2 linked regions of the Homo sapiens genome follow. The protein of the gene in region 1 purifies or fractionates together with the protein of each later gene. This does not show direct contact. Each region holds a gene or a part of one and is shown in the gene's direction. Other genes may lie near its edges.

Region 1 (3,649 bases):
CTACACTTGTGGGCTGGCTGAGCAGAATCATGTTTTTTCTCCCAGGTTTCTCCCTCCTTGACAATATTCTGCTTTTCCTGTTATGTGTTTCAGATTTTTCTACACCACCGCCACACTCATCATAGCCTTCACCTCTGCAGGTGAGTGCTGTCAGGTGGGTGGGAGGGATGCAAGCTCAGAGGCACCTGGTGGCTGGGGCAGGTGTGAGCAGAGGGCTATAGGCAAGATATACAGACCACATGGTTATTCAGAGATCTGCAGCTTGAAAGAATCCTGGAAGGATCTTGAGCTATTGCTGGTCTGTGAAAACAGTTTATTGAGAAAATGTGAAAAGCAAGGATGATGGAGAGGGATTACTTCAGAGAGTAGAATTTATTCAAAACTTTACATCTGGCCAGGTGCAGTGGCTCACTCCTGTAATCCCAGCACTTTGGGAGGCTGAGGCGGGTGGATCATCTGAGGTCAGGAGTTCAAGACCAGCCTGGCCAACATGGTGAAATCCCTTCTCTACTAAAAAAAATACAAAAATTAGCTGGATGGTGGTGCGCGCCTGTAATCCCAGCCACTCAGGAGGCTGAGGCAGGAGAATTGCCTGAACCCAGGAGGCAGAGGTTGCAGTGAGCCAAGATCACACCATTGCACTCCAGCCTGGGTGACAAAGTGAGACTCTACCAAAAAACAAACAAAAAACCCTAAAAAACAAAACAACAACAAAAAACCTTTACATCCTTCTCCTATGTGTTAAAATGTTCTCTTTCTCTTTTTAATGAAATGATTATATGAATGACCATTTTGCAAATATCCTTACTTAGCAGGGTAAAAGTTGACAACCCTATTGTACTCAAAATCTTTGTTTTAAAATTTCACCAGTCTGTTAAGTCTGGAACTCCAATCTGGTTTATTTTCCACCACCCTTCCACCCATTACACAGAGGAGAAACTGAAGCCACAGCAGGACCCCTTGCAAAGACATGTCCATGGCCACAGAGAAAGCAAGTGGGAGGTGGGCCTGATGTGCAGGCCTCCTGATCCCTCACTCTTCTTTCTGTCATTGCCTTGGTTATGGTGGCCACGAGATGCCTCCCAATATTCCTTCCTAGTGTTAGACCCGTGGCTCAATTTTTGGTTTAGGAAAGAAAGTACATTACTCTTGTGTGTGTAAGCTATGCTAAAGCTGACAGCATCATGAGATTGTCTGCACTCATGCTGGGCAAACACAGAGGCTGAGTGTCTTTGTTCACACAGATCTCATGAGATGGCCCAGCACCTCAAACCAATTATTTCAAACCACTCTCCTTATCAAACCAGCATCATCTACTCTAAAAGCCTGTAAATGATTTTTAAGCAACTGAATGTGGAGGTGGTGGCTGGGTAATGTTTGACTCGTGCCTGCAAATCGTCTGAGCAACAATCCTCCTCTTCCTCCATAATATAGGGCTTTTCAGTTTTGAAAAAAGCATTGAGCCCATAAGGACTCTATTGTGAAAGGAGTCTCCAACCTTTAGTAGTAGGAGAGATGTACATTTTATAAAGACAGAAATTGAATGGTAAACTGTGTGAATACTCTAAAATTAGCTCTTGGCAGTGCTTCTTAAGGTATAGCACGGTAGTTAAGAGGATGTTAGGGGCACACGCATACTACGTGAACTACACTAACAAACATCAAATCACCTGGTAGAACAGCTATTCCCTTTTTATTTCTCTTTCAGTCCTTCTGATTTCATGAAAGAATGTCTTCATGTGGGGCCAGTGTGATTTTAACACTGATGGGAAGAGCAGGTCTTAGGCTTTGAACATTCTAAGGTCAAATGCATCCAGCTACAATTGAATAACATTGTTTTCCTTTCATTGTATTTATTTTGACAGTTACTTTCTATTCATGACAAGTAATGCCAGTGTTTTCATCTACAGTAGTGATATAAAGTGTCCTTTAAAAATAGATACTTTTTGGATAAAAGTGAGTCAACTTAAAACATTTTAGCAAATAATAGGACAGGCATAGGTTGTGGCCAGAATAATGGTGGGCAGAAGTCTGGTTTGGGGAGGAAGAATTTGTCAAGGGTTCCCCTAGCCCAGCTCTTGAGCTTTTTTGCTGTGGTCTCACACTTACCAGACCTGTTATAACCATTTGTTTGCATGTCAGTCTATTTAAGGGCAAGGACTATCTGATTCATCTTGCATTTCCAGTGCCAAGCACAATGCCTGGCACCAAAGAAGTGCTCAGAGTTTAGTGAACAAAGAAAAGACCATGGTCCTTTTCTCACTCAGTTCTCATAGCACCTGAGACAGGAAGAGCAGGAACTGTTGTTCCCATTAAACAGATGATTGAAGCTCAAGGCCAATACCATGAATTAGGGAATGGGCTAGAGGGTTGAGCCAGGGACCTGAGTCCAGGGTCTTCTTTTCCAGGAGTGTCAAGGATGAAAGGGAGAGGCAGCTTGTGGTTTACTGAGGGAAGAGAGAGGTGGCTTCACTTAGAGCTCTGCCTCTGTCTGTAGACTTCCTGGCCTGCCACAGACTGAGGACCAACTTTGGTTGGGAAGAAGGTGGCTCAGAAGACTTCCACAGAGATATCTGGGGAAGCCTTGGCCGGTATCCTAAAAACCCTTGAAGGACGCTGGAACGCTGGCTAGAATTGGGGCCTGGATACCAGGATTGTTGGGAATTTGGAGCAGGTGGGAGCAGAGTTTGGGGCTCCATGTTTGGGTTGCACTATGACACCACCCTACCTCTGACTTTGATGGTCCAGGCTCAGCCGTGCTGCTCTTCCTGGCCATGCCAATGCTCACCATTGGGGGAATCCTGTTTCTCATCACCAACCTGCAGGTGGGAGCCTTCCCTAATCCCAGGCACTCGGCAGGGTGGCGGGAAGGTGGAGGGAAGGAGAGACCCTTTTCTATAATTGGCTGCCTCAGATGGGGTTGGCCCAAGCTGAGGTGGGAGCTCTAGCGGTGGAGGGTGAGTTTGGGTATAAGGAGGGTCTGCCACATGCTGGGTGCTCAGGAAGTATCTGTTTCATGAATAAATAAGTGATCCAGGCTAGTCCTATCATCCCCAGATTGGGAACCTATTTGGCCAACACCGTTCGACCATCATCACTCTGTACAATGGAGCATTTGACTCTTCCTCGGCAGTCTTCCTTATTATTAAGGTAAATATAGCAACAGCCTACATTCACTGGGCACTTGTATATGCCAGACACTTGTCTTGTGAACCTGCATTATTTGTCTCCATCAACTCGGTGAGGTAGGTACTGTGTTACCCCCATTTTACAGATGAAGCATTTGAGTCTCTGAGGTTAAAAAGCTTGTTGAAGGTTCTGCAGCTAGTAGCCATGATACTGGAACTTGAACCCAGGCTTGTCGGTTCTAGAGCCTGAGCTTGTAACCGCTAAGCCCCTTCTTCAGACTTGCCCAAGCTTTTGTGGCAGTGGTCATAATGTGCTTGGGCCAGTGTTGGGTAGAGGCTGGGGGACCTTTAGAGTGGGGCGTTTGCTGCTGTGAGCTTCTAGTTTGGACAAGAAGGTGGCAAGTGGCTAGTGGGTACAGCAGGGGCAGACACAGAGGCTTGTCCAGCTGTCCCAGTGGCTGATGTTGGGGTATCAGGGGATGAACTGTTGCCAAGGCTATTAGAGGTCAATCAACAACCAT
Region 2 (3,649 bases), on another chromosome or scaffold:
AGGGGACTCGAGCCCTCCCCTGCCATCGGGAAGCCAAGGATCAGACTTGCCTTGACCTTGACTTATTACCCAGCACTGAGGGTTTGCAGCAGGATCAGTGAGCAGATTCAGCGATGCACAGAGCAGCCACCTCCACCCCCGACAAGTTTCTACAAGTCTTAGGCACACTGCTGTCATCCCCTCTGATCCCTTTTTTTTCCCCATACTTGTTTGAACTCCTGGACTAGGGTGGTTTGAGCTTAGGCCCCACAGCTCCTGCCTACCACGCAGGCACACATGAACCCTTCACCTGCTGCCCGTGACCTGAAAGCCACATGAGACCCCTGACGAAAAATGTGCTAGAAATTATTCTTTGCTAAAACATCAAGGAGGAAAATGAAGTCCTTTTATCAAAAAGAGAATTTGGGCTCCTGTAATCACACAGCAGAGATGAAGGGGGAACATTTTCCCTGTGTCCAAAATAAGTAAGGCTGCTTCTATTTCATATTCTTCTGCACTCAGGTTTTGTGGTTTCAGTATTTCTCTCCAGACCACACACAGTCATGTGTAGTTTATAATTGTGTCTTGGTCATCGGATCCCTGAAAAGCGTTTATAAAGAACTTAGGTTCAAAGCACTTTAGCAGATACTTTGGGTAGAAAGGAAGTGAAGGATCTATTCCTTTAAAGGGAGGAAGGTTCACACATTTGCCCAAGACAGGCTGCAGGGCCGGTGGCTGTCCCCTGGAAGGAGGCTGCCGCCACTTGCCCCACCCAGAGCATGTTCATTGATGGGCCCTATGTCAGGAAAGTCACACAATGCCAGGGGCCTTGGCAGTTGGAAGTGTGTGAGCACGGCAGCACCTCTGCGGTTGCAGGACTGAATGCTGGGCACAGGCAGGCATGGACGATCAAATGAGCTTTCAGTGAGAGGGCTTTTGTCCGTTTTGTTTTGTGTGTTAACCCAGGAGCGTTCTGGGATCCAAGCTGGAACCTGGACGTGGTGCTGCGGGCCACTCACATAATTGCGGCATCTGTCTCCTGTTGCCCGAGCTTTGTTTCAGTCAGGCACAGCCGCGCTGTGCTGGGCCATGGAGGGGTGCACCTCTGACCTTAGTGCTTGCTCACAGGGGATCCACTCTCGGCCCACCACGTCTTCTTGTTGGGGTTTTAGGGGGACCAGGGCGGCCTGAGGACCTTGCAGAAGAAATGGACCTCCTTCCTGAAAGCCCGACTCATCTGCTCCCGGCCAGACAGCGGCTTGGTCTTCAATGTGCTGCGGGATGTCTTCGTGCTCAGGTCCCCGGGCCTGAAGGTGCCTGTGTTCTATGCACTCTTCACCCCACAGCTGTAAGTGCCCTGGGTGGAGTCCCCCTCCTTGCTCCCTTGATGCCGCCAGGTGGTCCCGTCACCTCTTTCCCCTCCCCAGGAACAACGTGGGGCTGTCGGCAGTGTGCGCCTACAACCTGTCCACAGCCGAGGAGGTCTTCTCCCACGGGAAGTACATGCAGAGCACCACAGTGGAGCAGTCCCACACCAAGTGGGTGCGCTATAATGGCCCGGTACCCAAGCCGCGGCCTGGAGCGGTGAGCTGGGGCACTGGGGGCGGGCCGTGCTTTCCCTTCAAGGCCCAGGGCATGGAATCCAGTACAGGCACTGGGGCCTGCTCATGGGCTGGGTACCTGGCCACGCCAAGGCTCTCTGCATTGGGACAGGGACGGCCGATGAGCACAGCTCATCCTTCTTCCCTTTTGCATGTTACGTAACAGCCATTGCTACACTATTGCACAAACAAGAAGGCTGGGGCAGCTGTTTTGCACAATTAACATTGCATAACAATTAGGTCTGTTTCATTTTCAGTTTCTTACAGAGAAACACATGATTCCTTGGCAAAGGCCTCTGCACTGTCCACTAGTCAACAGGAGTCACATTTTTTCCTCCTAAATATAGTGAACTTTATGTAGAAATTGGGAATTTCCAGGCCGATTCCTTCCCTCACATGGGGAAATGGGTGTGACAGGCATGTGCACAGCCCTCTGTGGGGCTGTGACCTACATGGGGTGTCCTGGCCCTCAGAGTTCACTGCAGCACCAGCTCCCTCCCAAGGGCAGCTGTCCCTGACACCATCATGGCTCCTTCTATGCATAGCTTCGTAAAATGTGTTCACTCATGGTCACAGATTTTGGTTTACACACATCAGGGAGCTAGAACAGGAAAAAAGAATCCCTCAGGCTCTTATGCTATTTTAAATTGTCCTGGTTTTAGCCATGTTTAGCATTCTTTTCATGAGAAAGCTGCAAATCAGTGTTCTGTTTTTTAATTTCAAAAGCTCAATAAGTGTTTTTCACTTACAAATAGATAAAAATTCCTTCCCTGAGTATGTATCGTGAATGCAATTCTGTCTTGCAGATGTGTTTTATAACTGTGTCCTCTGCTGGCTGGGGAGAGGCCACCTTTCCTCATAGTAAAGTTATTCACTGCTACCCTCATTTCAAGGCATGCATTGTGTGGTTTCCAGGTTTTGCAGCCCCCCCTGCGTTGGCTGCTTGTGTGGAAGCACCCGTTGCGTGGTGGGACACGAGCACGTTAACAGCGGGGATTTTCTCCCTGCAGTGCATCGACAGCGAGGCACGGGCCGCCAACTACACCAGCTCCTTGAATTTGCCAGACAAGACGCTGCAGTTCGTTAAAGACCACCCTTTGATGGATGACTCGGTAACCCCAATAGACAACAGGCCCAGGTTAATCAAGAAAGATGTGAACTACACCCAGATCGTGGTGGACCGGACCCAGGCCCTGGATGGGACTGTCTATGATGTCATGTTTGTCAGCACAGGTGGGTTCCGAGGGCTTGGCAGGCTTGACAGTGACAGCACATCTGTGTCCTCTGGTAGGAAAACTGGGAAATCCAATTATTCTTTCGTGAGTAGTTCCATTGCCTCCCTCGAGGTGACCTGGGAGGTTTGTGGGAGCGTAAGAAGATTTCTGAGAAGTCACCACACCAGGTGGCTTTCAGATCTGGGACCACCAGGCTACTGGAGGTACTTGTTAAAAATAAAAATGCAAGTCCTGGCCTGTGGCTGGGCTGGGCTGGGGCAGAGGAGTACTGGCCGCCGAGGAGTTGGGGCAGTGCCCACGCAGGGGGCAGGTGTGAGCCACCTGGGAGGAGGCGTCAGCCTGGCGTTTCCTGACTGCTGGCAGAGGACCACGTCCCTGCTTCCTGGCCGAGGAGCCAGGTTTTAGATGTGCCCTGGCATGTGGACTCTGAAATAAGCACTTCTGGAACAGGGACAGGGGCCAGGAGCCACGGTGGCTGGCAGCGCATTGTGGCCTGCCCTTGGAGCCTCCCAGCCAACCTCACATGCCCCCTGTCCTCACCGCCTGCCTAGGGCACTTACCAGTGACACCCCGAGGGCTGGTGGAGCATGGGAGCCCCCTCATGTGGCACTTAGCCTCAAGTGTAATGTCGACTGTTGGTGAGGATTCTTGGGGTCAACCATGGAACAGTTTATTTTCCTTGGAAAAAAACTGGAATAACCCATAACACTTGGGTTTCCAGTTGTCTGTTTTGCCAAAGCCTTTTCCTTTTTTTGTTTCTAATGCGAAATCATCATTGTTTTCTAAGTATCTGTGGAGGGAATGACTTGAGAGTGAAGAGTGTGAAGTTTGCCG

What was found. The genes of interacting proteins can lie anywhere in the genome.
Region 2: the proteins of SLC43A3 (region 1) and SEMA4D purify together in Homo sapiens (affinity purification with mass spectrometry; one large-scale study listed by BioGRID and IntAct). This does not show direct contact.

What each region holds. Positions count from the first base shown.
Region 1 is NC_000011.10:57,420,473-57,424,121, reverse strand, and holds part of SLC43A3 (equilibrative nucleobase transporter 1), read left to right. Parts: intron 1-93; coding exon 94-140; intron 141-2,748; coding exon 2,749-2,825; intron 2,826-3,057; coding exon 3,058-3,150; intron 3,151-3,649. UniProt on the Homo sapiens protein: Sodium-independent purine-selective nucleobase transporter which mediates the equilibrative transport of extracellular purine nucleobases such as adenine, guanine and hypoxanthine.
Region 2 is NC_000009.12:89,386,550-89,390,198, reverse strand, and holds part of SEMA4D (semaphorin-4D isoform 1 precursor), read left to right. Parts: intron 1-1,151; coding exon 1,152-1,327; intron 1,328-1,406; coding exon 1,407-1,563; intron 1,564-2,590; coding exon 2,591-2,813; intron 2,814-3,649. UniProt on the Homo sapiens protein: Cell surface receptor for PLXNB1 and PLXNB2 that plays an important role in cell-cell signaling. Regulates GABAergic synapse development. Promotes the development of inhibitory synapses in a PLXNB1-dependent manner.